3 linked regions of the Homo sapiens genome follow. The protein of the gene in region 2 interacts with the protein of the main gene of each other region in a pairwise test. Each region holds a gene or a part of one and is shown on either strand. Other genes may lie near its edges. The genes, in order: AMOT, SEPTIN1 and DNAJB13.

The links.
Region 1: the proteins of SEPTIN1 (region 2) and AMOT interact in binary tests that used the Homo sapiens proteins (3 or more experiments, as listed by UniProt).
Region 3: the proteins of SEPTIN1 (region 2) and DNAJB13 interact in binary tests that used the Homo sapiens proteins (3 or more experiments, as listed by UniProt).

What each region holds. Positions count from the first base shown.
Region 1 is NC_000023.11:112,813,667-112,825,407, reverse strand, and holds part of AMOT (angiomotin), read left to right. Parts: intron 1-187; 5' UTR 188-336; intron 337-2,219; 5' UTR 2,220-2,281; coding exon 2,282-3,153; intron 3,154-5,969; exon of another isoform or gene 5,970-6,083; intron 6,084-9,530; coding exon 9,531-10,050; intron 10,051-11,741.
Region 2 is NC_000016.10:30,379,142-30,390,821, forward strand, and holds the start of SEPTIN1 (septin-1), read right to left. Parts: upstream 3,421-11,680; 5' UTR 3,402-3,420; coding exon 3,384-3,401; intron 3,225-3,383; coding exon 3,134-3,224; intron 3,039-3,133; coding exon 2,952-3,038; intron 2,743-2,951; coding exon 2,619-2,742; intron 2,333-2,618; coding exon 2,198-2,332; intron 2,104-2,197; coding exon 1,986-2,103; intron 893-1,985; coding exon 791-892; intron 394-790; coding exon 294-393; intron 43-293; coding exon 1-42. UniProt on the Homo sapiens protein: Filament-forming cytoskeletal GTPase. May play a role in cytokinesis.
Region 3 is NC_000011.10:73,965,892-73,973,388, reverse strand, and holds the end of DNAJB13 (dnaJ homolog subfamily B member 13), read right to left. Parts: intron 7,252-7,497; coding exon 7,138-7,251; intron 5,451-7,137; coding exon of another isoform or gene 5,418-5,450; exon of another isoform or gene 5,045-5,417; coding exon 4,931-5,044; intron 4,144-4,930; coding exon 4,067-4,143; intron 3,429-4,066; coding exon 3,275-3,428; 3' UTR 3,108-3,274; downstream 1-3,107. UniProt on the Homo sapiens protein: Functions as part of axonemal radial spoke complexes that play an important part in the motility of sperm and cilia.

The sequences.
Region 1 (11,741 bases), on a different chromosome or scaffold from region 2:
CTACTGGACACTGAGGTTTCTTTTCTGCCCTAGTGGAGATGGACTCTGCTACTCATTTAAAAGCCAAGCACCATAGGAGGACAAGTCATTCTCTTGGAAGAACTGGTTTGATTAACTGCTGGCCATTGGTGGCAAAATAGAAACGACGTTTTTATTTCTCCCTCCCTCCCTCTCCTGAACATTTCAGAGTGACCAGTGGTTGGACTCTTGGCGGCGCTTACCCTGAACCTGAGTGTTAGGGGAGAGGGAATCTGCCGTTGCGGTTTCTGGAGCTGCTCATAAGCAAGAATTCCCTATCCTGATCAAGGCTTTAAGCCTAAAAGAAAGCAGAAATAGGTATGGAATATTTCTGTGTGTGTGTGTGTGTGTGTGCACACGCTCGTGCATGTGTGTATGCATGTGTGCCTGTGTGCATGCTGGGTGGGGTGGGTGTGACGTGGGAGGGGGTGGTATACTTTTCAGGGTCCAGGGCAGCTCAGTGTCTGCATTTCCCTGCCTTACAGGGAGGGTTTGTAAATCACTTTTGCTTTAACACCATACTTGTTCCTGTTTCCAGTTTGTGAGCAGGGAAAAGTAATTTGGTAGTCATCTCTCTAGTTTTGGGCACCAAAAAGGATTTATATATTATGCTTGTCAGCCTATCAGAATATCCCAATTTGACAGTTCAAGTACAGGAGTCCTGGAGGCACATTGGGAGGAATGGAAAAGGGACTGGGTTGCTTAACCCACTGGTGTGCACTTCCCAAGAGAATATGATGAGAGGGACTTTGGAGGGTCCCTTCGTGTTGTCAGACTGCCCAGCGCAACAGTTGGAAGCCAGGTAGCAGTAACCAACAAGACGTGAAGAAAGAGAGAAGATGAACTTTCTTCATATACTATATGTACATTCTGGGTCACTCTCTCTCTGCATGACCAAAAGAAAGGGGTTCGTGTTTCCAGAGAGATTGCAGGCCACTTAATATCATAGAAATAAGAGCCTGGGAGCCAGGGATCCAGAGTTGCCATCTAGAAACCTGATGCTGGTTAAACTGACCTTTATTGTGACTTTTCGTGTGACATTATGTTCATTCTCCACCAATTACTGAAGATCCTTAGAGTGAAAGTTTCATTATTGAACATTATTACTTAATTCCAATACTTAACATTGACAGATTCTGCCCAAAGAATTTTTGAATCTCTAATGAATTAGTGTGTACTATACAGTGCTGAGAGAGAGAAATCACCTACCAGCCATTTTTTGTTGAGAAAATAGACATCAAGAAAAGAGGAATCAGTTGTATACCCTGTAAACCAATAGTATGATTAGAATTTGAATATTAAATTGTGTTACTAAAATCAGTTTCAGTCAACCCATAGTACCTGTTCAGAAGAATTGATGGTGAGGGAGGGGATATGCTAATCGTATACCCTTTCCAGAAGGATGATCTTTATATTTTTCAATTTCTAAATTTTGTCAGAGGCACACTTCAAATAAAAGAGGCTTCCCCTTTAAGCTTCTACCCAATAACAATAACAGCAAATCTAAATGACTGTTTCTGGAGAGCTGAAAGGCAACTTTGTCAGTAATAAGTATTCCAAGTCCTTCTCTTATTAAGCCAAGGAGCATCCAAAATGGAGACTATGAAAATGATTTTTTAAAAAGATGTTTCAGAGCCTTATGAGATCAGAGAAAAAGATTTGCATCGAGGCAGGGATCATTACTGTCTGGTGCAAGCCAAGCTCTCTTCACCTTTTATTTATTTGAGTCTTTATTTTGCATTTTGTAGCTGCCTTCATATGCTGAGCTGCTTTACAAATCCTGTTATGGGGTAACTTTCCCCACTGTCCTGCCCCCACCTCCACAGCCATAAGATTTGGGTTTTTGCTTTAAATAGAATACAGAGAGATGAAGCCTGTGAATATGGACCTTGAAAAGTTACCCCCTTTGATTACCCTAGTTGACTGTTCCAGGTTTCTCAAGCATTCTTAGGAGTTAAGTCCAGATTGAATATTTAACTCATGCTAAAAGTGAAAGAGAAAACCTAGAGCTCTTATGCCTCCATGTTCTTCATCATATCAGTGCTAGGGCCTGGAATCCCCAACAATCTATTAATTTTAGAGTCAATTCTCTACTTTGTTTCTGCAATCGAATCCTCACCCTCCAATATCCATTTTCTTTCCCTTTAGAGGACTGATTTATCCATCAACTGGGTGTTAAGCTTCCTGTTTCCCCTTCCCAGGTCAAGGGCAGCCCAGGTGCCCAATTTCTCTCTCTCTTCACAAGGCACCACCAGCAATAGAGATGAGAAATTCTGAAGAACAGCCAAGTGGAGGGACCACGGTATTGCAGCGTTTGCTACAAGAGCAGCTTCGCTATGGCAATCCTAGTGAGAATCGCAGCCTGCTTGCCATACACCAGCAAGCCACAGGGAATGGCCCTCCTTTCCCCAGTGGCAGTGGGAACCCGGGCCCTCAGAGTGATGTGTTGAGTCCCCAAGACCACCACCAACAGCTTGTGGCTCATGCTGCTCGACAAGAACCCCAGGGGCAGGAAATCCAGTCAGAAAACCTCATCATGGAGAAGCAGCTGTCTCCTCGAATGCAAAATAATGAAGAACTCCCGACCTATGAAGAAGCCAAGGTCCAGTCCCAGTACTTTCGGGGCCAACAGCATGCCAGTGTTGGAGCTGCCTTCTATGTCACTGGAGTCACCAACCAGAAGATGAGGACTGAGGGACGCCCATCAGTTCAGCGGCTCAATCCTGGAAAGATGCACCAAGATGAGGGACTCAGAGACCTTAAGCAAGGGCATGTCCGTTCCTTGAGTGAACGACTAATGCAGATGTCACTGGCCACCAGTGGAGTTAAGGCCCATCCACCTGTTACCAGTGCTCCCCTCTCCCCACCACAACCCAATGACCTCTACAAGAATCCCACAAGTTCCAGTGAATTCTACAAGGCCCAAGGGCCACTTCCTAACCAGCATAGCCTGAAGGGCATGGAACACCGAGGCCCCCCACCAGAATATCCCTTCAAGGGCATGCCACCCCAATCTGTAGTGTGCAAGCCCCAAGAGCCAGGGCACTTCTATAGTGAGCATCGCCTGAACCAGCCAGGGAGAACAGAGGGGCAACTGATGAGGTATCAGCATCCCCCTGAGTATGGAGCAGCCAGGTAAGAGAGTTCTGTTTCTGTCATTTCCTGACCTCATCCCCAACCAGCTTCTGCTGTGTGTTGGGAATCTTAGGGAAGGAACGGGCAGGTGTTTGATATAACAAACTCTGCAATGCATGACAGGCCTCTGGCTTCGTGAATTGCCTGCCAACCCGAATTTGTATCCTCTTTAGCCATAATTAGCACTGTATTAACAATCCCTTAGCTTTGTAGGTTGAGCATGGCCTCAACTGCCTAGTGGACGAACAGGAGCAAAAGTCTTGTTTTCAGCAGCTATTTGCTGTCCTCTCTCCTAGGATGTTGAAGGGGTCTGTGTTTCTCATAAGCCCTCCTTGAGAGGTAGAAGCAAATTACCTTGCACTTTAATTAGTCTGGAACATCCTATCACTTGCACATATTCCCCTCCATGAAGCTTTCATCATTTATTTTTGCAAACAAATCTGTGTATTTCTTGTCAGTTACCATTTTTCCATAGAATTACCATTATTCTTTTGGACTAAACAAACACCCAGATGTTATGGTGGGGGAGCTATGTATGTATGTAGGTTCAGAATGTTACTTGCCTTATGCTTGCAGTTTATGAAATCTGGACTGTTGTATCTTTTTTTTGTAGAGAATTTATTAGTTGCCTGTCACATTTTTAAACCTCTGAGTTAAATTCCCATCACATCATATAGAAATTTTGGTCAGATGCTAAAATACAGAAGGAAAAATATTACCATTTCTGTCTTATATATTTAGTTGTTCCTATATATACTTCTTAATTATTCAGAGGTCCATTGTCCCACTGCTATATTCACTAGACCTTATGATTCTATGATTCTGTTCATTGTTCCTGTTGTTAGTATTTGGGCCATGTCTCTGATCAGTAGTATTTCCACATATAGGGCAGGAGAAAAGGTTTAAACCATGGGGACCGATGGTGGCATTTAAGTGTGGTATCCTGCCTCATGGCCATGAGTAATGATGGGTGACCATCAGGTTTGAAGTGCTTGGTCCTAGGCTGGCCTTCATTTATATGCGGCTCACAGACTAGGTCTGTGATGTCCTTTGATGTCTACCTCTTTGTCTCCTGTACCCTACTTGCTCATTTTGGAAAAAACCTTCTGGCTTGAAGTTCATTGAGTGACTCAGGAGAGAAGGCAGTCATGGGGTGGAGTAGGGTGAAAGTGAGAGAAGGCACCTAGCATTTCCTGGTATTTCTTTTTTTTCCCCTGCAGGTCCTGTTTTTGTAGCCAGAGGCAATTCACTTTGGACTCCACCTCTAACTTTGCCAGTTTAGGATTTTTTTTTTTTTTTCCCTCTTAACCCAGGTTGATTTCCTAACCCTTTTCAACCTCCTCTGTGCAGCTTTCAAAGGGCAGGAGCCTATGTTCTGATCAGTGTCTTGGAACAGGAAATGGGGTAACCAACAAGGCTACTCAGGTTTAAAAGAGATCAAGAACCAGATTCCCATCTGACCAATGAAACAGAAGACCCAGGGAGGGGTTGGTCTGTTCAAGACTGCCTCACTTAGTGGAAACCCATTCAAGCCAGCAAAATATCAATGAAGCTGGGGGTTTTTATTTTGCTTTTCCCATCAGTATGGAAGAGTCTGTTGATGGGCTGATGTCTGTTGCCTTGTGGGAGGGGAGTGTGTTGGCTGGGGTGTGGAGCAGAAGCCACAGCCCCACTCAGCACACAGCCCGCCTTCCCAGGAAAGCTATTTTCAGAACTCATTCACCAGTATTGTTTGTGATCTGAAATGACTCCCACAGTGTTTGAAGCTAGATGGAAAATTATCTGCCCTTTGATCTGCCTAAATAAATAATGAGGAGCCCAAAGAGGTTTTCTTTTTTTTTCCTTTTCTTCCCATCCTGATTAAACCACCGGAGAAATTTAGCTGCATGTATTTTACAGGAAGATACATATTTTTTATCCTCCCACCTAAGTTATCTGTGGATTTCTCTTTCTTTCTGTCCTCAAAAGCAACAGAGCCCATGATGATCTACCCTTGTTGAGCAGCATTTTAATACACAGTTTTGCTGTAACAGGTTTTTCTCTATGGGAAAGGAGCAGAGTGCTTGATAATGCTTGATGAATAAGCAAACCTAAAATGGCCCTAGTGGGAGGATGCTCCATATGAAATTTGGGTCTGCATCAGGCAAATACTGGCCGTAAAATTGTTGCAGGGCCCTACATGAGGGAGTGGCACCTATTGACAAATTACTGGCAAAAGGAGGTAGTTGAACTGCTTTCCAGAAGTGTACTGCTTTAAGGTGGTGACACATTTTCCCTCCTTTATTTCCTTTAACCAACTAGCTATACAGTTTGTGAGTACCTTTCCAAGTAACTGCTGCTAGCAGCAACCAATTAGAAGACTACATTCTGAGCCCTTAATCCACAAATTACAAGTCAGGATGCAAAGCAAACTCTTTGAACAAATTGCTGTTAAGAAAACATTTGCTTGCTTTTCGAGGTGCAGTGAACTGCTGGAGATTTGCTGTTAAAATGAACAAAATTATAAACAATCCTTTTATTACTTCATCTTTCTTATGCCCTCCTCCCCTTAAAAAATAAATACCTTGAATGCCCAGAACCCCAGATGAGAAACAAGGCAAAGGCTATCTGAATAATTTTAAAATTTCAGAATCTTTGTCTTTCTAAGTGCTGAACCTTTTCTGCATCCTGGGTTTATACATTTATCAACTGCTTTTAAAAATTAAATCATTTCTGTTTATAAAGCAGCCACCTCCTTTCAATTGTTGAAATCATGCCCAGATCTGAGGTTTCTTGAAATCCTTGTTTAGTGGAATCTAAGGGTGACCTAACTCTGTAGTTCAGAGCAGAGCTGGTTGTGCAAGAGAAACCATCAGGAATTTGCAGCCTGCTCCAGGATTCACAGATTCACCGATTCACCATTGCAGAGCCTGGGAAAGGCAGTTTCTGTGGTGAGGATCAATCAAGTTCCAGGCTATTGGGTGGCACCTGCTCTGGTGAGAGTGTGTGTGCAGGATTGCACATGTGTGTGCCAGGAGTGTGGAGTGTGTGTGTGCATGCACATGTGTGCATGTGTGTGTGGCTGGGGAGGGTGAGGGCTCCCAGTCATCGAGGTGGCAGGGTGGAAGGTGCTGTGTCAGCTGGGTAGAGTGGCTTTTACTTTCCCTTTGAGTCCTTACTACTGTCTCTGGGAGGAGTGTACCCCCCACCCTACCCCACTTCCCAGCTTTGGGGAGGATCCTGATTTTAGTCACTGGCCTTTGTCCTGCATGTATGCTATGTCCCCTTTTCTGCAGAGCCCCAGTGGCCCAGGTAGCCTTAGGAAGGAGCAGGATGAGGGGACGGAAGTGGCAGGAGGCAGGTCAGGGCTTGCATGGAATCATGTGATTCTGTTGTCTGCAGGCGGCTTGTTGTTCCTGGTTAACGTGTCAGTGGGGAGCGATTCAGGCTGCTGTGTGCTGGAAGGACCTGGAGAGTGTGCTGCTCACATGGCTGCCACCTTTATTATTACTGTCATTACTTTTACTGTTATTATTTAACTTGGGGTGTATTTTGGCTTCCTCTGACATCCGCCCCCTCCAACTCTCCCTTACCCCGTCATTCCTTAATCTCTTTTTCTCACGGGGAGCTTCACCCCAGTGTTCATTCCGTCCTGCTTTCCCCTGGTGGGTGGATGCTGGAGCCCAGATTGAGTTCTTCACTGAAGGGCTTTCTCTCCCTTTGTGACTGCCCAAGCCATTGCTGGTTTGCAAACCAGCCAGTGACGGGCTGCCTTGGTTTTCCCAACATCACGGTGCACTGAGATCTGCTTCCTTTTCCAGCCTGGGGAATTGAGGGGCAGCTGCCTTGTCTCTGCTTATCTTCATCCTCAGCTTATCTGACCCCAGAGACCTCCTTCTGGAGACCTCATGGTCTCCTCCTTCCCAAGGTCCCTGGAAGGCCATGTGCTGTTGTCCAGGGAATGCAGGGGCCTTTCAGTCTCCAGGCAGGAGGGAGGCCAGTGGCTGAGTTTGTTTGAGAGAGAGGCCTGGGTTGCTTGATGAGGCCCAGGGGAGCTGTGGAGAGAAAGCCCATTTCAGAACTGGGCGTTCAGTCTTTAAAAGAGAATACCTCCCAGGCCTTGGACTGCAAATCCTGGGAACAAAAATGAAGGTTAATATAGTGATTTTTTTCCCTTAAAATTTGAGAGCTGCATTGGAGAACATGAAACTTAAGCCCCTCTTTTCTGCCCACAAAGCAGAAAAGAGACACACAAGCCCCAACAAATCTCAGGACATTATATTTTAACTCTGTAGGCATGTAGAAATTGTAATAGCTCTCATTCAAAGAGAAAAAAGAGCACTTAGTCTTTTACCTGTGAGGAAACTGAAGATCCATAGAATGGAAAATAGGAGCTCTTCACCAAATAAATGTATAAATAACTCCCAGGCTTTTGATTGAATGAGTGCTTTGAGCTCTGGGGAAAAATATTATGTATGGCAGCAACTTTCCAGTTGTACTTATGAGTACCATGTCAATTCTTCTTTGCCCAAATAGTTCGCATGCCCTCTTCAATATTCAGCAATTATTTATAATGACAGATGTATGTGATTGGAAGAATGTGGGTACACCAGAGGCATAGATGGGCCTGAGCGACAGAATCCAGGGTTTGTACAGGTTTGAGGACTCTTGGGGAAGATGTAGGTTATTGGGTATCCATGAGAAAGTGTTTGGAATGATTTTGTAGCTGTAAAAAGCCCTTATAGTTAAGATCTCTTGTAAAGATGGATACATGAACAGTAATGGTAACTGGAGTGTGTGTCTGAGGAATGTGCTTTAGCATCTGGAATGCCAGTTAAAAGTTAATTGCTCCTGGTGATTTGTCCCAGTTCCACCATGAATTTTATGCAATTTATTGCAAAGATTAAATGGATATCCTTTAAGTAACAAGCTAACAAGGTCAGCTTATCTCACTGGGAGGTAGAGAAGTGACTGTAATTCCTATTCCGCCAAAAATGAGAAGACCCCAGTATTTTTGCAATTTATTTGTGACCTCAAGAATAAAATGGGCTCATGCAGATTAAGTAACTTGCACCAAGTTACACAGCTCGTGAGCAGTAGAAGAGGTCTCCAGACTCCCTCTGTTGGGATCCAGATCCCATGCACTTAGCCATCTGTCTTCCCTGGATTGAGAAATATCAACTGTAGAACAAGTGTCCACAGGACATGGGAGCATATGAGGTTAATTGGGCATGAGCTAGGGCATGAACAAGCTTTTTGTCTTCAGTGCACACTGACAGATACTATTCCTGGTAGTGGTGATGGTGGAAGTGATCCATCCACATACTAATTGTTTCCCTTAATGGCTAATAGTCATTAGGTATGAATTATTTATACTTAGGTGTTAGCATTTTGTACCTGGTAATTAGGTACAAAAATGGGAGAGCCACATTAAACAATGTACCAAAGGTCTCTTTCTGGAACTTTCTATGAGCAATAGGTTGGAAATCTAAGTATCAGTGCACAGAAATCAATGCATTATGGCAGTAGAAAAAGCCAGAAAATGGGAATTGGGAAAGAAGGATTCTATCTTGGCACCACCACTCTAATATTTGGCAGATGACTTCCCCTTTCTGGACCTCATTCCCCATCTGTCCAGTGATAGAGTTGAACTAAATAATTTTCTTTTAAGGCCTTTCCAGTTCTTACATTTTGCGATTCATTACATCAAAAATAGTATGTTAGCATTGCTTGTAACCCTCTTCAAGTCTTTTTATGGTTACTGCTAATGGGAATCATTAAATCGTTAACAACTGGAAGCAACAATAATCATTTAGTGTCTCTAATATAAGTATCTACCAATCCTTGAATAGTTTTTTTTCTTTTTTTTTGTGAATGTATGAATTACTAAAGGGAGTTGCAGATAGCAAGATGGGGGTGGTTTTTATGGCTGTTTGTTGTTTCCATCCTGGCAAATGGAACATAGTTTCTAAACTAGGATCTTTATGTGTGCTGGACCACGTGTATAATGTCAGAAAAGGTTTAATTTAAAATAATGAGATGAAAATTACCTTGTAGAAGAATCGTTTGAAATGTTTAGACTTGAGCAAACGGGTGTACAGGTGTGTATCACTACGATTTTCACAAAGTGACCATGGAAGTTGTCTGGTTCTGACCCTCATGGGATCACACCTCTGTTTGTCAGGCAGAGGCACAGAAGGTCAGGCTGGAAAAGGGCTGTGGTCTTTGCAGAGATAGAGCAGGCAGGGTTAGACTTCCCCATAGTCAGACCCTGCCTGCTCTTCATTTTGCAGGTGTCCTGGGGGCATCAGAAGCCTCCTCATCTCACTTTTGTGTGCCCTTCTCCCCCAGTGCCTTAGGAGAGAAATTAACCCGCACCTGCCCTTCATGTTTTACAGGCCAGCGCAGGACATCTCATTGCCATTGTCAGCCAGGAACTCGCAGCCTCACAGCCCTACTTCTTCTCTGACCTCTGGGGGGTCCTTGCCCTTGCTACAATCTCCACCATCCACTAGATTGTCTCCTGCCCGACACCCCTTGGTCCCAAACCAGGGAGACCATTCAGCTCACCTGCCTAGGCCGCAGCAGCATTTCCTTCCTAATCAGGCTCACCAGGGGGATCATTACCGTCTCTCCCAACCTGGCCTGAGTCAGCAGCAGCAGCAACAGCAGCAGCAGCACCATCATCACCATCACCACCAACAACAGCAGCAGCAGCAGCCACAGCAGCAGCCAGGAGAAGCCTATTCAGCTATGCCTCGGGCTCAGCCATCCTCTGCTTCTTATCAGCCAGTGCCAGCAGACCCTTTTGCCATTGTTTCCAGAGCCCAGCAGATGGTTGAGATCCTCTCAGACGAGAACCGGAACTTGAGGCAAGAGTTGGAAGGATGCTATGAGAAGGTGGCAAGACTGCAGAAGGTGAGGCTTCCGTTTTGGGATATTAGGGTCTCTAAGTCTTTATTTGTGAGACTTGTTTAATATCCACATTAAAGTCTCCAGTTGTGAATCCCAGCATTACTTGTGGCAGGTCTTCAGGATTTTTATATCTGAAGGTTAGATATGAGTCAAACTTTGGAAAAAGCCTTCTACCTGTCTACCTAGGAGAAGTAACGTCTTACATTTACACAAGGAGAAAAAAATTTATGCAGTTTTTCCAGACGCTATAGCCCTAAAGAAAACGTGATTAATTCTTTTAGAATTCCAAAAGGCAGTGATACTTCTTGATAAGAATACTGGTGATGCCTTTATAGGTAAAGGATCTGACGGCACCTTAAGGCTCATTGTCTTGGTCACATTTTCCCAAATATGAATTTGAATCTTAAATATAAAAATAAATGTAGTTCCTAGAAAAATCTCACCAGCTAAAGTTTGAGCAGTCCTGCCTTGTTCTGGAAAAGGCTCAGAATACTTTTTCCTAGTGGGAGTTCTCATAGTAACTCTCTTTCAACAATCCCTCCACCCCACCCTTTGATTTGGTCCCTCCCTGCAGCTCAAATTCAACATCTGCTCTCTTTCTCTGTTGTATGTGGGGGGCAGGAGGGGCTTAACACCACAGCTGGGTGACAGGTGACAGCCCTAGGCTGAGGAAATAGAAAAAGGAGTGTATCTCCAGTTCACATTCTTCTCTGCCCACCCCCATTGGGACTTTACCTCTGGAGTACCCCAAGCGAGGAACCTTAGCTCTTGGCTTCCAGGGGCTGCTGGTGAATAGGGTTATGCCTTTGGCCGCTTCTTTGCAGCTTTTGTCATTGTGGAGCTATTGTGGTTTGGTCTCCCTACAATGTGAACTGTTCAGAGAGGTGAGGGTGAAGGTGGGGGAGGGACAGGAGGATGCCTTGTATTGTCCAGCAACTCTGTCCTTAGGAAACACCAGGAGTGAAAATTTCAGAGGCCTGAATGAAGCTGAGTATTTGTAAACAGACACCAAATCTGGGGGCCTCAAGGAGACAGGGGCTTATTATCAGCAGATGATTTTTTTTCTTTCTTTCTTTTTTTTTTTTTTTGAGACGGAGTCTCGCTCTTGTTACCTAGCCTGCAGTGCAATGGCACGATCTCCACTCACTGCAACTTCCGCCTCCTGGGTTCAAGCAGTTCTCCTGCCTCAGCCTCCTGAGTAGCTGGGATTACAGGCATGTGTCACCACGCCTGGCTAATTTTGTATTTTTAGTAGAGACGGGGTTTCTCCATGTTGGCCAGGCTGGTCTCGAACTCCCGACCTCAGGTGATCCGCCCGCCTTGGTCTCCCAAAGTGCTGGGATTATAGGCGTGAGCCACTGCGCCTGGCAAACAGAGGATTTTTATATAGGAAAATGGCTTCCCTGTCCCTTAGTTTTCCTAAATCTGGATGAGGGTTGTTGGAGTGCTCTGAGAATTGTTTCTTCCCGGCTTTTCCCTGATTTTGTATTTTCACCCGCAAATTTTAACTATATCCCTATCCCCATCGCTTTGGTGAAATAAATTAATTATATCCATACACTAGAAACCCAGTCTGGCTGATTAGGCTAACAGTTGACACCCCCTCTCCAAACTCTCTCTTCATGGTGATCCCAGCCCATCTTTGATACAATCACTGAAGGATGAACCCAGCTCTAATACGGGCCCTTTTTGCC
Region 2 (11,680 bases):
TCCGTCGCAGGTTCAGGAAATCGCAGTGATGTGGGTTCTCCACTGGAGGGGGGGCGGCGCGGACCAGCGAACGTCAGGGAGTTTCGGGTCCAACCCACCCGTAAGGGTCGGGTCTACAGGAAAGTCCTGCTGCCACTCTAGCGGAGGGTCCGCGGTCTGCAGCCCAGCGACCCCCCTTTCCTCCTAGGATCCCCTGGGACCAAAGCCCACCCCAACTTCACATGTTGAGTGCGCCTGACCCAGAGGCCCCGGGCTCCCTGCTGGCCTTAGGACCCCTGCCTGGCCTCACTCACCCTCCACGGTCCCCCAGGAGTAGCGGCGTCCCCTCACCGGCCGGTTCCCGCCATCCCTCACCACCTCGCATGATCCCACGACTGCAAAAGGGATGCTTTCCTGGAGGGCAGGGGGCAGGGGTTCACCATTGGCTCACACGGCAGAAACTTTCTCTTTCCCAGCTTCAATCTCCACACCCGCCTCCTCTGCTTCCTGCCCCTTCCTCTTTTTTTTTTTTTTTTTTTTTTTTTTGAGACAGGGTCTCACTCCATTGCCCAGGCTGGAGTGTTCAAGTGATTCTCCTGCCTCAGCCTCCCGAGTAGCTGGAATTACAGGCGCCCACCATCACACCTGGCAAATTTGTGTATTTTTAGTAGAGGTGGGGTCTCGCCATGTTGCCCAGGCTGGTCTGGAACTCCTGACCTCAGGGGATCCTCCCGTCTCAGCCTCCCAAAGTGCTGGGATTACAGACGTGAGCCACCGTGCCCGGCCTGCCTTCCTTCTTTGTTTCCCACACCTTCATCTCTGCATCCTGCCTCTTGAAGTCTTCATCTTCATCAGAGTCACATTCGGGGAACTGGTAGATGTGGATCTCCTCTTCCTTCAACTGATCCCGGATCTCAGGGGAAACAGATATAGAGACAGTGTGAAACGGGCCACAATGACAGACATTTCATGACCAGAGACAGTGAGACACAGAGATACTGGGTGGTCAGAGACAGAGAGAAAGACATGAAAGACAGAGATGGGGAGAGATGGACATACAGGAAGACAAAAACAAAATCTCAGAGACATAGATGGTGAGAAACACAAGATTCTAAGATGGGGCAGACATTAAGAGACCAGGAGAAGCCTGGGCAATATAGCTAGATCCCATCTCTACAACAAATATACACATATATTTTGAAACAAGGTTTCACTCTATCACCCAGGCTGGAGTCCAGTGGCTCCATCTTGGTTCACTGCAGCCTCAACCTCTCAGGCTCAGGTGATCCTCCCATCTCAGCCTCCTGAGTAACTGGGACTACAAGTGCACACCACCACACCTGGCTGGTTTTTGTACTTTTTGTAGAGATGGGGTTTTACCATGTTGCCGTGGCTTGTCTTAAACTCTTCAGCTCAAGCAGTCCACTGACCTCAGCCTCCCAAAGTGCTGGGATTAACAGGTGTCTGCCACCAAGCCCAGCCAAAAAAATATTTTTTAAGTTAGCCAGGCATGGTGGTGTTCATCTATAGTCCCTGCTACTCAAGAGGCTGAGGCAGGAGGATCACTTGCGCCTACAAGTTCGAGGCTGCAGTGAGCTCTGATCTTGCCACTGTACTGCAGCCTGGGCCACAGAGTGAGACTCTATCTAAAAAAAAAAAGAGAGAGAAAGAGAGGCCGAGAGAGATATAAGCAGAAACAGTGGGAAAGGGCTCTGAAGACACGGGGTGGGGGCCAGAGGGAAGTCACTATGTTCTCATGTCTATGCTCCTGCCCTCAAATAGGCCTCAGCCAGGCATCTAGCCCGGGGGCTGCATATGTAGCCTATTTTGAGCCTTCAGAGACATGGCTATGCTGGCGGCTTACCACCCGCCTTCCTCAGAAGCTTCTCCTACAATCTAGCCTGATGCACCATGCTCCAGAAAGGCCACTTCAAGATCAAAGAAGTCTAAGCTGAAATCAGGTTTGGCTTCACATGGGGTCAAAGGTCAGAGGTCATCACTCACACCTTCTGCTTGAGGGCCTGGGTTTCCTGGGGCATCAGAGCATCCGCTTTGCCAATGACTGGGATGATGTTGACTTTCTCGTGTACTGCCCGGAGGAAGGCCACATCTAGGGGCCGGAGCCTGCACCCAGGGATTGGTCATTGCCCAGCCTCAGGGGGCAGAGACCCCCCAGCCCTCCCTAAATGCGCCAGCCCCCAGGATCCCCCCACCAGACCCCCGGCCGAAGGGTGAGATGAAGTAGAGGCAGCAGTGGACTCGGGAGTCCTGGATGTTCTTCCGGTTCAGGCCACTCTCATCCCTAAGGTACTGCTCAAATTGCTCCTCGATGAATTTCACCACCGGAAGCCAGCTGGGTGTGGGGAGAGGATGTGAGGTCAGAGATCAAAGGCCAGAGGGCAGGGGGCAAGGCTAGCCAGGACTGTGGGAGTAGAATGTCATTTCTTTGGCTCCCTCCAAAGACATTAAGGGGAACTGGTGGGGGCCTAGGTGAGTCATCAAGAAGCACAGGGACCCAGTGGCCCTCTGAAACAGACACCACCTTTTGAGATAGGGAGCCAGCACAAACCAGTCCTGTAACTCTCCAGGGAGTCGCCACTGTGAAAGGCTGAGCCTCTGTCCCCTTTCCTCTTCCTCACCAGTCAGAGCAGTCCACTGAGTCCCCAAAGCCAGGTGTGTCCACAAGGGTCAGCTTCACTTTCACACCCCCTTCCTCAATCTCTACGCCCCGGCGCTCAATGGCCAGGGTCTGTGTCAAGCGAGCTGTGGGATGGGGGAGAGGTCAGGGATCCGGGGAGGCTCTGAGGCAGAATTAATTTCCTTTGTCAATATCACAGTTGCCTGCACCCATTTCCCAGGGGAGGAAAGTCTCAGAAAAAAAGCAGTCAACTACCTGAGTCCCCAGATGGAAAAGACTAGGGTGTAACCTGGGGACAGGGGCTACTGCCTCAAGAGGGTGGGGAGGGTCTTACCACTGGCCTCTGGCACCTGGCGATCCTCATAGAGGTTGGTGAGGAAGAGGCTGTTGATGAGGGTGGATTTCCCTAGGCCTGACTCCCCTGTGGACAGAACAGGCCCAACTGGTCAGGGGAGGGGACAGCCAGGGCCTCCTAAGGACATCCCCTCCGCAGTTCCCTCTCCAAAACCCCCAGACCTGCCACCATTAGCGTGAAGTCAAACCCCTTCTTGACAGACTTGCGGTGCAGCTGGTTGGGGAGGGCAGCAAAACCCACGTACTCCTTGTCCTATGGATGGGGGTGGACAATATGAGGCTGCTGGCAATGGCAGGCAGGGTCCCCAGGATCACTTGAGTTCCTGGGCTAGGAAGAGTCAGTGGGGTCTGGGGACCCCAGGCATGGGGGCTGGGGGCCGAGATGCCCAGGTTTCTGGGTGTAAGGACTCACCATGACTCCGCCAGCCATCACTGCACCTGCCGTCTCTCCCCACTTCCTCTGGTGGGGCAGGAAGCTGAGTGCGGCTAACAAGGGGGCGGGCAGAAGAGGCAGCTGAGATGCTCAAACTGGCCCAGTCCCAGAGAGGTGGGGAAGGCCAAGGCCAAGAACACTTGGGGTTGCCACCTCCTGGACCCCTTTGCCCATCACCTGTCTACGTACCTTCAACCCTCCATCCTTCACACATCTGGATTCCAAGTCCCACTGTAGCTCCATCATCGTGGTGAGACATGGGGTATGTGCAGAGAGGAAGGAAGTGGCTCCCTTTGTTAGCAGGGGAGATGAAGGTTTTGATGAGCTGATTAGAAAACAGTTCCCAGGACGGGCAAGGTGGCTCTCGCCTGTAATCTCAGCACTTTGGGAGGCGGAGGAGGGAGGACAGCTTGAGCCAAGGAGTTCCAGACCAGCCTGGGCAACAGAGGGACGTGCCCCTCTACCATCTCTACAAAACATTAAAAAATTAGCCAGGCATGTTGGTACAATCCTGTAGTCCCAGCTACTGGGGAGGCTGAGGTGGGAGGATTGCATGAGCCCAGAAGATCAAGACTGCAGTGAGCTGTGATCACACCACTACACTCCAGCCTGAGCAACACAGCAAAACCCTGTTTCTTTTTCTTTCTTTCTTTCTTTTTTTGAGACGGAGTCTCGCTCTGTTGCCCAGGCTGGAGTGTAGTGGCGCCATCTCGGCTCACTGCAAGCTCCACCTCCCGGGTTCCCGCCATTCTCCTGCCTCAGCCTCCCGAGTAGCTGGGACTACAGGCACCTGCTACCGCGCCTGGCTAATTTTTTTGTGTTTTTAGTAGAGACGAGATTTCACCGTGTTAGCCAGGATGGTTTCGATCTCCTGACCTCGTGATCTGCCCGCCTCGGCCTCCCAAACTGCTGGGATTACGGGCGTGAGCCACCATGCCAGGCCAACGCTGTTTCAAAAAAAGAAAAAGAAAAAAGTGGACCAGAAGCCATGATGGGATTGGGAGTGGGTGAAGCCATACATTTTCCAGCTCAGACAATGGATTCATAAAAGGACTCCAGGTCTTTGGACACCACTGCCCGAGAGATTTTCCTTCAGAATCCTGGCCAAAGAACTCCACTGCTCAAAATCCTTCAGGAACTCCCCAGTAACTCAGAGTCAAGTCTGAATTCTGGCCTGACTGCCAAAGCCTCCCTCAGCTGGCCTCATCACCCCATCTCTCACTCTTCCAAACGTCCTTGGCTCTCTACCCACATTGAGCTTTTCCTTTTTCTGAATCAGTTAAACTCTTCCTCATCCTTCAAGTGTTTCTTTCCAAGGGCTCTGCCTCTATGCAATCTCTCCACCTACCCTAGGCAGGGTCATTGTCCCTCCTTCAGATTCCCAGCACCTGGCTGGCGTGGTGGCTCACACCTGTAATCCCAGCACTTTGGGAGGCCGAGGCGGGTGGATCACTTGAGGCCAGGAGTTCAAGACCAGCCTGGCCAACATGGCGAGACCCTGTCTAGCAAAAATACAAAAATTAGCCAGGCATGGTGGTGCGTACCTATAATTCCAGCTACTTGGGAATCTGAGGCAAGAGAATTGCTTGAGCCCAGGAGGTGGAGGTTGCAGTGAGCCGAGATTGCACCGCTACACTCCATCCTGGGCAACAGAGCAAGACCCTATCTCAAACAAACAAACAAACAAACAAATCTACCTCAGGACCGCTGCGGTGGCTCACACCTGTAATCCCAGCACTTTGGGAGGCTGAGTCGGGCAGATCACGAGGTCAAGAGATTGAGACCATCCTGGCCAACATGGTGAAACCCCATCTCTACTAAAAATACAAAAAATTAGCTGGGCATGGTGGCATTGCCTGTAGTCCCAGCTACTCAGGAGGCTAAAGCAGAATTGCTTGAACCCAGGAGGTGGAGGTTGCAGCGAGCCAAGATCGTGCCACTGCACTCCAGCCTGGTGACAGAGCAAGACTCCGTCTCAAAAAACAAAAAACAAACAAACAAAAATGCTACTTAATACCATCTAGGGACTGTTAAGAATCTGGAAAGGGGGGCTGGGTGCGGTGGCTCATGCCTGTAATTCCAGCATTTTGGGAGGACAGGGCAGTCGGATCACTTGAGGCCAGGAGTTCGAGACCAGCCTGGCCAACATGGTGAAACCCCCGTCTCTACTAAGAATACAAAAATTAGCCAGGCATGGTGGTGCACGCCTGTAATCACAGCTACTAGGGAGGCTGAGGCAGGAGAATTGCTAGAACCTGAGAGGCGTAGGTTGCAGTGAGCCAAGATCCTGCCACTGCACTCCAGCCTGGGCGACAGGGCAAGACTCCGTCTCAAAAAAATAAATAAGTAGGCCAGGCGCGGTGGCTCATGCCTGTAATCCCAGCACTTTGGGAGGCTGAGTCAGGCAGATCACCTGTGGTCAGGAGTTCGAGACCAGCCTGAGCAACATGGAGAAACCCTGACTCTACTAAAAATACAAAATTAGCAGGGCGTGATGGCGCATGCCTGTAATCCCAGCTACACGGGAGCTGAAGCAGGAGAATCACTTGAACCTGGGAGGTGAAGTTTGCGGTGAGCTGAGATTGTGCCATTGCACTCCAATCTGGGCAACAAGAGCAAAACTCTTTCTCAAATAATAATAATAATAATAATAATAATAATAATAATAATAATAATATAAATAAATAAATAAGCAAAGGGCAGGGATCATGTTACCTCTCAGCACTCCACCACCGGCCTTCCTCCTGCATCTCTCACCAGGTTGAGCATCTCTATGGTCTTAGTTAAAATTCTGAAATCAGCCGGGTGTGGTGGTTCACGCCTGTAATCCCAGGACTTGGGGAGGCCAAGGCAGGCAGATCAGAAGGTCAGGAGATCGAGACCATCCTGGCCAACATGGTGAAACCCCGTCTCTACTAAAAATACAAAAATTAGTTGGATGTGGTGGCGCGTGCCTGTAATCCCAGCTACTTGGGAGGCTGAGGCACAAGAATCACTTGAACCCAGGAGGCGCAGGTTGCAGTGAGCCAAGATCACACCACTGCACTCCAGCCTGGCGACAGAGCAAGACTCTGTCTCAAAAAAAAGGAAAAAAAACTTTCTGAACTCCTCCCACTCTCACTCCCCACAAGTGTTTCCAGTGAGTTTCCAATTCCCACCTATCCTTCAGAAAAATTGGTCCCCTTTTCTTCACACTCTCCATGCCATTAACCTGCTTTGGGTTCAGACCCTGATCAACTCTTCTCTGAGTTATTCAACAGCCTTTGACAGAATAACATGTTTAAAGGAAAAAAAAAAATGTTGGGCGTGGTGGTTCACGCCTGTAATCCCAGTGCTTTGGGAGGCTGAGGTGGGAGGATTGCTTGAGGCTAGGAGTTCAAGACCAGTCTGGTCAACATAGCAAGACCCGATCTGTATTAAAAAAATAAATAAAAAAGAGGATAACATGTAGGCCAGGCAGTGGCTCATGTCTGTAATCTCAGCACTTTGGGAGGCCGAGGTGGGAGGATCACTTGAGGCCAGGAGTTTGAGACCAGCCTGAGCAACACAGTGAGATCCTGTCTTTACAAATTAAAAAAAAAAAATTAGCTGGGCATCGTGGTGCACAATTGTTGCCCCAGCTAGTTGGGAGGTTGAGGCAGGAGGATCACTTGAGCCCAGGAATTTGAGGCTGCAATGAGTCATTGTGGTGTCACTACACTTTAGCATGGGTGACAGAGCGAGACCCTGTCTCAAAAAAAATACAAAATTTAGGATGATATATATTTATCTGTTTATTGTACAACCAACACATGTTTTCATAGAAAAATTATAAAATGCAATTGAAATATAAACATTTAAATGTGGGCCGGGAGTGGTGGCTCATGCCTGTAATCCCAGCACTTTGGGAGGCTGAGGCAGGAGGATGGCTTAAGCTCAGGAATTCGAGACCAGCCTGGGGAACATGGTGAAACCCCATGTCTACAAAAAATACAAAAATTAGCTGGGCATGGTGGCATGCACCTGTGGTCCCAGCTACTCAGAAGGCTGAGGTGGGAGGATCGTCCAGTCTGTGTGACAGAGCCAGACCCTACCTCGAAAAAAATATATTTTTTAATGTGATATCACCATTTTTTTTTTCTTGAGATGGAGTTTCGCCCTTGTAGTTTCGCTCTTGTTGTCCAAGCTGGAGTGCAATGGTGTGATCTCGGCTCACTGCAACCTCTGCCTCCCGGGTTCAAGTGATTTTCCTGCCTCAGCCTCCCGAGTAGCTAGGATTACAGGCATGTGCCACCACGCCCAGGTAATTTTGTATTTTTAGTAGAGATGGGGTTTCACCATGTTGGTCAGGCTGGTCTTGAACTTCCGGCATCCCAAAGTGCTGGGATTACAGGTATGAGCCACTGCACCTGGCCTTTTTTTTTTTTTTTTTTTTTGAGACAGAGTCTTGCTCTGTCACTCAGGCCGGAGTGCAGTGGCACGATCTTGGCTCACTGCAAGCTCTGCCTCCAGGGTTCACGCCATTCTCCTGCCTCAGCCTCCCGAATAGCTGGGACTACAGGTGCCCACCACCATGCCTGGCTAATTTTTTTGTATTTTTAGTAGAGACAGGGTTTCACCGTGTTAGCCAGGATGGTCTCGATCTCCTGACCTTGTGATCCGCCCGCCTTGGCCTCCCAAAGTGCTGGGATTACAGGCGTGAGCCACCGCGCCCGGCCTTTTTTTTTTTTTTTTAAAGACAGTGTTTCGGCGGGGCGCCATGGCTCACTCCTGTAATCCCAGCACTTTGGGAGGCCTAGGTGGGCGGTTCACCTGATGTCGGGAGTTCAAGGCCAGCCTGGCCAACATGTTGAAATCCTGTCTCTACTAAAAATACAAAAATTAGCCAGGCATGGTGGCGCATGCCTGTAATCCCAGATATTCGGGAGGCTGAGGCAGGAGAATCACTTGAACCCGGGAGGCAGAGGTTGCAGTGAGTGGAGATCGCACCATCGCACTCCAGCCTGGGGGACAAGAGTGAGACTTCCTCTCCAAAACAAAACAAAACCAAAAAAAGACAGAGTTTTCCTCGTCACCCAGGCTGGAGTACAATGGCGCGATCTCGGCTCACTGCAACCTCTGCCTCCTGGGTTCAAGTGATTCTCCTGCCTCAGCCTCCCGACTAGCTGTGATTACAGATGCCTGCCATCATACCTGACTAATTTTTGTATTTTTAGTAGAGACAGGGTTTCACCATGTTGTCCAGGCTGATCTTGAACTTCTGACCTCAGGTGCTCTGCCCACCTTGGCCTCCCAATCACTATCTTTCTATAACCCAATTTTAGTATTTATCCTTCTCGTACGCCTATATATATGTATACACACTGTTTATATTTATAAAAATAGGGTCACATTATAACTTTGGAAACATGCTTTTGTTGCTTCATGTGTTCTCTACATCTTTTTTTTTTTCTTTTTTGGAGAGGGAGTTTTTCTCTTGTTGCCCAGGCTAGAGTGCAATGGCGCGATCTCGGCTCACCACAACCTCCGCCTCCTGAGTTCAAGCGATTCTCCTACCTCAGCCTCCCAAGTAGCTGGGATTGATTACAGGCATGCACCACCACGCTTGGCTAATTTTTTTTGTATTTTTAGTAGAGATGGGGTTTCTCAGTGTTGGTCAGGCTGGTCTCGAATTCCCAATCTCAGGTGATCCACCCACCTCAGCCTCCCAAAGTGCTAGGATTACAGGTGTGAGCCACCACGCCAGGCCTGTTCTCTACATCTTTCTATGATACATGCACATGTACATTATCTGTTTTTGTTTTAGTTTTTGTGTTTGTTTTAGCTGGGACTACAGGTGTTCACCACCATACCCAGTTAAGCTTTTTGATTTTTAGTAAAGACAAGATCTTGCTATGTTGCCCTGGCTGGTCTTGAACTCCTGAACTCACACAATCCTCCCTTCTTGGTCTCCCAAAGTCCTGGGATTACAGCCACTGCACCCGGCCCAGGAAGTTATATATTTTAAGCATTTGTACATATTAATGCCAGGCCAGGTGCAGTGGCAATAGGGCGAGACCTTGTCTCAAAAAAAACAACCACAGTCCAGGCGCGGTGGCTCACGCCTGTAATCCCAGCACTTTGGGAGATCAACGTGGGTGGATCACCTAAGGTCAGGAGTTCAAGACCAGCCTGGCCAACATGGCGACACCCCATCTCTACTAAAAAAAAAATACAAAAATTAGCCGGGCGTGGTGCCGCACACCAGTAATCTCAGCTACTCAGGAGGCTGAGGCAGGAGAATTGCTTGAACTCAGGATGCAGAGGTTGCAGTGAGCCGAGACTGCGCCACTGCACTCCAGCCTGGGCGACGGAGTAAGACTCTATCTCAAAAGAAAATTAAAAATAAAAATAAATAAAAATAAAAACAAAAACAACAACAAAAAGAAAACAACCCTGCAAAAAAGGCTCTTGTGGCCGGGTGTGGTGGCTCACGCCTGTAATCCCAGCACTTTGGGAAGCTGAGGCAGGCGGATCATGAGATCAGGAGTTCGAGACTAGCCTGGCCAACAAAGTGAAACTCTGTCTCTACTAAAAATACAAAAATTGGCTGGGCACAGTGGCTCATGCCTGTAATTCCAGCACTTTGGGAGGCTGAGGCGGGCGGATCACGAGGTCAGGAGATCGAGATCATCCTGGCTGACACGGTGAAACCCCTCTCTACTAAGAATACAAAAAATTAGCTGGGCGTGGTAGTGGGCCCTGTAGTCCCAGCTACTCGGGAGGCTGAGGCAGGAGAATGGCGTGAACCCGGGAGGTGTAGCTTGCAGTGAGCCGAGATTGTGCTACTGCACTCCAGCCTAGGCAACAGAGCGAGACTCCATCTCAAAAAAAAAAAAAAAATAATAATAATACAAAAATTAGCTGGGCATGGTGGTGCGCGCCTGTAATCCCAGCTACTTGGGAGGCTGAGGCAGAAGAATTGCTTGAACCTGGGAGGCAGAGGTTGTGGTGAGCCGAGATCGTGCCACTGCACTCCAGCCTGGGCAACAGAGTGAGACTCTGTCTCAAAAAAAAAAAAAAAAAGGCTCTTGCTTGGTCATTGTGTTAAATGTAGAGTTTATATGAATTAACAGTGACACCATAGTCCATTTCCATGCTTATTAATTCCAACTAATTATGGCGAATCATTCATATGATATTTGGGGCTTGTTTGCTTTGACAAAGGAAGGCAGTACCTTGAGTTTCATATAGGGCAGTGTGTGGTGGACAGCTCTCTTCCCATTTAGTAATTATTTAGTCATTTGGATTAGTTTTTTTTTTTTTTTTTTTTTTTTTTTTTTTTTTTTTAGAAACAGGGTCTTGTTCTGTTGCCCAGGCTGGAATGTAGTAGTGCGATCATAGGTTATTGCAGTCTTGAACACCTGGGCTCACTTCTGCCTCCCAAGTAGCTGGGACTATAGCTTTGCAACACCATCCCTGGCTAATTCTTTTTTCTTTTTAGAGATGGGGTCACTATGTTGGCCAGGCTGGTCCCAAACTCCTGACCTCAAATGATTCTCCTGCCTTGGCCTCCCAAAGCACTAGGATTCCAGGTGTAAGCCACTATGCCCAGCCCGTATTAGTTCTTCTTCATCTTGCCATCATGTCTTCACAGTTACCTCTTCCCCACCCCTTGCATCCCTTGAGGGACTTCTATATCTTTAGACATTAATTCAAGTTCAGATCTAATAACTATAGGATTTGTCCTCTCAAAGTCAGAGTTAGGCAGCTCTGCAAATGAATATGGCAGGCATGCTGACCATTTATACCCTCTTCTATTTCCCAGCACAAATGCCCAGTACCTGATGGATACCCAGGAAATGTTTGTGGAACAAATGAATAAACTTACATTCTTTTTTATTTTTATTTATTTATTTTTTTTGAGTCGGAGTCTCGCTCTGTCGCCCAGGATGGAGTGCAGTGGTGCGATCTGGGCTCACTGCAACATCCCCTCCCGGGTTCACGTGATTCTCCTGCCTCAGCCTCCCGAGTAGCTGGGGCTACAGGCACCTGCCACCACGCCCAGCTAATTTTTTGTATTTTTAGTAGAGACGGGTTTTTTTTTTTTTTTTTTTTTTTTTTTTTTTTTTTTTTGAGATGGAGTTTTCTCTGTCGCCCAGGCTGGAGTGCAGTGGTGTGATCTCGGCTCACTGCAAGCTCCGCCTCCTGGGTTCATGCCATTATCCTGCCTCAGCCTCCTGAGTAGCTGGGACTACAGGCGCCCGCCATCACGCCTGGCTAATTTTTTTTTTATATTTTTAGTAGAGACGGGGTTT
Region 3 (7,497 bases), on a different chromosome or scaffold from region 2:
TCCCCTTGTGGACTCCCCCAGAGACCAGTGCTGGGGTCCTTGGGGAAGCCTGTTTGGCAGCTGTGGAGCTAGGCCCTGAGAACACGACCACCCTCCCTCTTCCCTCAGCCTCAAGCCGCTGAAGCCACTGCTGCTTCGCCGCCTCGTAAGCCCAATGGTCAGAGCTGGAGGCTAGACCCTTCAGTGCTTGGGTTGAGGGCCAGGGTGTTAGATTGGTTTTTGGAGAAGGAACGAGGGCCCAGGATTCTTCAGCTTCTTAGTTTTTGACAAATTGAGCTGAGGCCCCATAGTCCTCGGGAGGGACAGGGTTGAGTGCCATAAGTCGGCAAACCAGGGTAAAGGTGACAGGCAGCTCAGCCAGGCTGCAGGGGGTGGCATATACAGAGGACCTGGCCACTACTTTATGTACCTTCTTACACTAATTCTGTGAGGCAGGCTGTTTGTTAGCTCTGCTCTGGACGGGAAGAAGTAGGGGCAGTTTGGTAGGTGTGTGTCAAAGCTAAACAGGCTGGGTGGGCATGAGCAAGTCAGCTGGTTCATTCAGCAGCCTTAATAGACACGAGGCTACCCAACTTCACTGTGGTTCTGGGTGTGGCCTTAGGACAATGAGCTGGGAACAGTGGTAGGAACCACTGGAAAACATACCAGTGGGTCTCATTCATTCTGATCACAGGTAGATCACTTCTCTTTGGTTCCCAACCCTTTAATGCCTATTAAGTGGGCAGATGATAAGCCCTGCTTTGCCTAATTCAAGGTAACACTGAAGATCACTAAGGTAATAGGAATCTCCTAAGGGACTTTCAGGCCCAAGACCCAGGCTTCCTTCAAGATAAGGAGTAGGCTTTCCTGCTGCCCTACAGGAGACCTAGAGTTGAAGAATTTCACAGCCCTGCCTCTGCACTCCAATTCAGGGCTTGCCCTCAGAACAGGGCAGCTCTCACCATCCCACTCCACCTGAGTCCTGCCCCAGAGCATTTCATGCCTCACCATCTGGTTTCCATGAAAGGCCTGCAAGGTAGGGGCTGTAAGCTTTAAGAAACGGGTTCAGAGAGGTGAAGTGATTTGCCCAAAGGCACACAGCTGGCTAGTAGCACACTGGGGATCCAGAACAGGTGTGTCTGACTCCAAAGCCCACATGCTTTTAACTACTATGCTGAAATGCTTCCTGGAGCCCTGGTCCCAGAGTCTTCACCTCAAGGTCTTTGGGTAGCTGACTTCATGGTGATTTTTTTTTTAATTTTAAGATGGCGTCTCTTCTGTCGTGCAGGCTGGAGTGCAGTGGCAAGATCTCAGCTCACTGCAACCTCTGCCTCCTGGGTTCAAGTGATTCTCCTGCCTCAGCCTGCCAAGTAGCTGGGATTACAAGTGCATGCCACCATGCCCGGCTAATTTTTGTATTTTTAGTAGAGACAAAGTTTCACCATGTTGCCCAGGCTGGTCTTGAACTCCTGACCTTGTGATCCACCCGCCTCGGCCTCCCAAAGTGCTGGGATTACAGGCATGAGCCACCGCGCCCAGCCCATGGTGATTTTTTTAATGACAAAAGTGCTACTGAACCCCCGTTTTAAAAAAAAAACCTTAAGCTGATGTGATTTGAATGGTGGAGTCCCAAGCAATCTGGAGAACATGGGGCCTTTTCTGGCACCTCTGAAGGCATTCCATGGAATTGGCTACCTACTCCCCGTAAGCCTGGATCTATCCTCACCCAAGCTCAGACTCTAGAAGGGAACCTCCCTGGCATGGAAGGGGAGCATAACACACGTGTTGACTATGAGGAGGCAAGTGTGGTCTACGCAGGCCCAGTTGGACCTGGATGCTGGAACTCCAGGCCTTGAGGGCAGCAGTGCTGTTACCCCTTCCTGAATCTAAGCAGTGAGTTCACCAAGCACTTTCACATCAATGTTCTCTGTCCTCACAACATGCCCGTGAGGGGGGTTATGGGCTCTGCTTTACTGACAAGACAGGTGTGGTGACTGGTCCCAGGAGAAAGTGGCAGGGCTGGGGTCAGAACTCAGGTTTCCTGCCTCCCAGATCACCCTGCCCAGGACCCTATCACAGACCAGGGGATTGAGGCCAGAGAGGTAGAACCAAAGCTGTTTCCAGTGCACATGTGTTCTTTATGCTGCTTCTCTACGCAGGGCGAGTCTGTGGGAAGTGACCTTCAAGGTTTTTGGGGGTTTTTTTTGTTTTTTGTTTGAGACAGAGTCTTGCTCTGTCACCCAGGCTGGAGTGCAGTGGCGCAGTCTCGGCTCACTGCAACCTCCACCTCCTGGATTCAAGTGATTCGCCTGCCTCAGCCTGCCGAGTAGCTGGGATTACAGGCCCTCGCCACCATGCCCAGCTAATTTTTGTATTTTTAGTAGAAACGGGTTTTCACCATGTTGGCCAGGCTAGTCTTGAACTCCTGACCTCAGGTGATCCACCTGCCTCGGCCTCCCAAAGTGCTGGGATTACAAGCATAAGCCACCACACCCGGCCTTTCTAGTTTTTTTGAGATGGAATTTCACTTTCGCCCAGGCTGGAGTGCAGTGGTGCAATCTCAGCTCACTGTAACTCTGCCTCCCAGGTTCAAGCAATTCTCCTGCCTCAACCTTTGGAGTAGCTGGGATTACAGGTGCCCACCATCACACCTGGCTAATTTTTGTATTTAGTAGAGACGAGGTTTCACTATGTTGGCCATGCTGGTCTCGAACTCCTGACCTCAAGTGATCCGCCCACCTTGGCCTCCCAAAGTCCAGGCATGAGCCACCGCACCCAGCCACCTTCAAGGTTCTGATGACAGCTTTGCCACTGAGGCCTGAGTGACCTGCAATGAATGTTTTCTTTTGTGCTTTAGTTTTCCTGTCTCTAACGTGACCATATCATGCTCCAGAGATTGTCTCTTCTGTCATGAAAAGCCAGAGCAGAGCTAGAGACCCTCAGAGGCCACACAGCCCTGCCCCACTCTATCAAAGTGGAAGCACAGAGGATCTGAACCCTTACCTGCCCTTTCCCACAAAGCCAGGACAGGGACTCAGGCACTCAGCTCCTTAGGCCTCTTTCTTCCCTGTGCCCCACAAGAAGGGCTAATATGAAGCTCCTCTCCAATGTACTCTCGTGGGTGTAGCTGGAGGACAGGAAATAGATCTTTATTATGTCAGTTTAAGCCCTGCGCCATCCCACCCTTGTATCATATCTGTGCAGCAGGCTCCCCTGCACACCCTGAGGCTGTGGCGGGTAGGGGTGGGGTGAGGCCCGGCTAGCCTCCTCTCACCCCTGCTCCAGCCCACCACAGTCATGTCAGCAATGCCTGGCGCAGCATCTGCTTCTTCTGGGGTGTGAGGCGGGTGGGGAACTGGATGTCGAAGAAGATGAAGAGATCCCCTTTCTTAGTGGGGTCCTCCGGCAATGGCATCCCCTCCCCTGGCACCTTCTTGAAGTATTTGGGGCTGAAATAGGATGAAAGAAAGGAGCATAGAGGGCATCCCAGAGCAGCACCTCAGCAGGTCCCTGTCATATAACCCCTACTCACATAACCCCAGGAAGGGGACAGTCACTGCAGTCTTCACCTGGAGTGGTTCTTAGCCAGAACTGGTTGGGAAAGGAGCTCCCTGAAAACCTGTTTACACTGAGTCTCTGATGGAGGATTCCAGAAACTTTGTTTAAGACATGGGAAACGGGAAGTAAAGGTGAGCAAACCCTGGGGTGAGGGCGAGGGTGCTGGGCTGCCAGGCAAACCTCCTCACGGGCAGAGGGCCTTTCTTGGAAAAGGACTTAGGATATGCAACTCAGAACTCTAATGAGAAGTTTGCAGGGCATGGAGGCTACAGGGTTGCCCAACAATGGGGGCCTCTAGCCTCTGCAGTGGCTTTGTGTGGATTAGAAAAAGATGTTCCTTTTGCCAGGTGATTGCAGCCCACAGCTTGGCCAGTGTGGGTTCAGTTTTGGTCCTCTCTATCCCCTCAGCAGGGAACCCTTCTGCTGGGGGCAGCCTGTACAACTCTACTGGGCAGACCTGTCACACTACCACCTAAATCCCAGGCTAGCCCTTCTCTTGGCTACTGGGGCCCAAGGCAGATGGACTCACTGGATGATGTCATTGATGGGGATGTTGAGCAGACGGTCATCTAGGGTCCTCACCTCCACAGTGCAGCAGGTGAGAGCCTAGGGAGGGTCAGGGCCAAAGGTGGGGCTGAGGAGGGTCACCATGGCTCTCCTATTTAGAAGGCACCTTAGGAACCTGTCCAGTGCCAGACTGTGAGTTGGGCACAAGGGAGACGAGGCTGTTCAATAACTAATAGGTGAATGACCCATGCAATTTTCTGCACTGGCAGGAAAGATGGATGGATCTGGCAGGTAAGATGGATGTTGTATAAATGTAATGATGGAGACAGAATAAAAGCGTTTGTGGGAGCCAAGGAGAGGCCCCTAAACCATTCAGGAGTGGGGCAGGAAGTGGTAGCAGTGGTGGTAGCTATTGATGAGGACCCTATAGGGTCAGGTGAATAGACAGCATTCCAGGGAGAGGGCCCAGCAGAAATGAGAACGGAGGTGTGACAATGCGCCACACAGGCAGGGTGCTATGCGGCGAAGGGGCGGGAGTGCAGGGGAAGGAGTAAGCAGGGAGCAGATCGCAGAGGGCCTCCAGTGGCACAAAGATGTTTAGACAGGAGTGTGGCAGGGTCTGATGAGTGTGTGGCAGGATCCCTAAGGAGAAGAGCCTGGAGGAGATGAGAAGTGGGGAGGAAGGCCTGCTGCGCAGATCTGGTGTACAGATCCAGGCGGTGCAGATGAGCAGACGGGACCAAGTGGATGGTGATTTAGAGGGTGGAATCCACAGGGCTTAGTGACTGATGGCAGGTGGTTGTGGGAGGGGAGGCCAAGTCTAGGCCGGGGCAGGCAGGGCTCACTCTGATCTCCTCCCCGCTGCTCCTGCACTTTGCCCACTCACCTTGCCAAGAGGGATGGGGTTCACGAAGAAGAGGTTGTCATTCTCCCTGCGGAAGCGAGGGTGTAGCTTCTCCTTTACGATGAAAATGATGTCTGCTGGGATGATGTTGGGGCCCTGGGCAGGGGACGCCAAAAGGTGACAAGGACTAGTTGGCCGTGTGACCTTGGCCAAGTTCCTGCCTCTACTTGTCTCCATGTCTTCATCTGTACAATGGGGAGATGAGAGCAGGTTTTCTGGAAGGGCCTTTTCAGTTTGGCCCCCATAGCCCAGATGGATTAGAAGCCCGAGAAGCTTACCCAAATGAATCCCCCCAGAATTACTTCTGTACTGAGCATGCCCAAAATAGACACACTCAGCTGGAGGGGCGGAGAGGCTTCCTCAGACGGCAGGCAGGTGGAACACTAAGCTGGGCGTCAGGCAACTGCCCGTATGTCTCTGTCTTGCTAGTAACTCCAGGCATGACACCCCTGTCCCAAACTTCATTAAGTCACCAAAACTCTGCTGAGGTCTCTTCTGGGCGCTGGGGACAGAGGAATCAGACTGGCCCCTAACACTGACAGTGAATCCTCAGCACGCTCAAGACATGATAAAGGGAGGCCCAGAGGCTGGGGCTCAGAGGAGGCTGCCCAGAGCGGGGAACACTGGAGCTGGGTTTTGAAGCGTGTTTATTCGAAGTAGATGTTTTATTTGTATTTTGTCTGTTTGTTTTGTTTTTAGACAGGATCTCGCTCTGTTGCCCAGGCTGAAGTGCAGTGGCATGATCATACTTCACTGCAGCCTTGACCTCCTCGGCTCAAAAGATCCTCCTGCCTCAGTCTCCTGAGTATCTGGGACCACAGGCACACACTACCATGCCCAGCTAAATTTTTTATTTTTAGTAGAGACAAGGTCTCGCTATGTTGCCCAGACTGGTCTCAAACTTCTGAGCTCAAGTGATTCTCCTGCCTTGGCCTCCCAAAGTGCTGAGGCTATAAGTGTGAGCCACCAGGCCAGACCGGAGGTAGATGTTTCATAGGTGAGAAAGGGGGCAAAAAGTGCAGGCAAAGGAATGTGTCTTCCCTGGCTCTGAATGCCTCTTCTCAGGACTTAAGGATTCAGCACGCCTTGGACAATAAATTTATGTTTTTATTTAAATAGTATTTAATTTAAAATTATTATTAATAGGCCAGGCACGGTGGCTCACACCTTTAATCCCAGGCACTTTGGGAGGCCGAGGCAGGCGTATCACCTGAGGTCAGGATTTCGAGGCCAGTCTGGCCAACACGGAGAAACCCTATCTCTATAAAAATACAAAAATTAGCTGGGTGGCTGGGCGCAGTGGCTCACGCCTGTAATCCCAGCACTTTGGGAGGCCGAGACAGGTGGATCACCTGAGGTCAGGAGTTCAAGACCAGCCTGGCCAACATGGTGAAACCCCGTCTCTACTAAAAATACAAAAATTAGTCGGGTGTGGTGGTGCATGCCTGCAATCCCAGCTACTGGGGAAGCTGAGGCAGCAGAATAACTTGAACCCGGGAGGCGGAGTTTGCAGTGAGCTGAGATCGCACCACTGCCTTCCAGCCTGGGTAACAGAGCGAGACTCTGTCTCAAAAAAAAAAAAAAAAAAAAAAAAATTAGCTGGGCGTGGTGGCACATGCCTGTAGTCCCAGCTACTCAGGAGGCTGGGGCAGGATAATTGCTTGAATCCAGGAGGTGGAGGCTGCAATGAGCTGAAATCATGCCACCTCACTCCAGCCTGGGCGACAGTGAGACTCCATCTCAAAATAAAAATAAATAAATAAATAAATACATAAATAAATAAAATTATTATGATTAAATGGTTTCTGAGTAGCTCCTGTAATTGGGCTTTATTCTGAGAAGCACTGAAGAAAATCAGGAAAACACTGGAGTTCAGACTGGGATCTCCTTTCAGCTCCCATGTTCTTGCCCTGGGCAAGTCCCTTTCTTCTCTGGGCCCCCATTTCCCACTCTGTAAAATGGGGACAGTCCCTGGGCTGCCTGTTCACAGAAGCACTGTAAGGCTAAGGCTCTGTTCCTTGGAAGGAACATTAGGGATCCCATCTCACCCACTCTGCAGACTGGGCTCTCTACAGACCAAGGCTCACAGGGGCAGGAAAAAGTATTGCCTCCTTTCCCTTCCTTTCCTCCTCAGTCTTCCCACCGCCTGAGCTCAGTGACTGACCTGAGTCAGCTTCTTCCCCCCTCACCTGGTCCCCTTCCTTCTCAAAGGTGATGCGTGTGCCCTGCCTCCAACCGGGCTTCACATCAATGGTCAGGATCTTGTCCTTGATGGTGGAGGAGTACCCATCCTCGTTCAGCACCTATAGCAACATATCAGGTGTGGGGAGGTCTGCTTAGGACTTCCATGAGTACAGTCGAGATTTGCTCAGATTTTCATGAACACTCAGGTGACCTTTGCACACGTGAAAGATGCTCTATGGGATTTGTACTTGGGCTCAATCCTCTAGCAATGGGAAGAGCCTCCAGCAATGGGGAGAGCCTGCCCTGAGCCACTCCCACTCCCATCCTGTTGCCATGACAACCAAGAACTTATGATTCCAGTATGG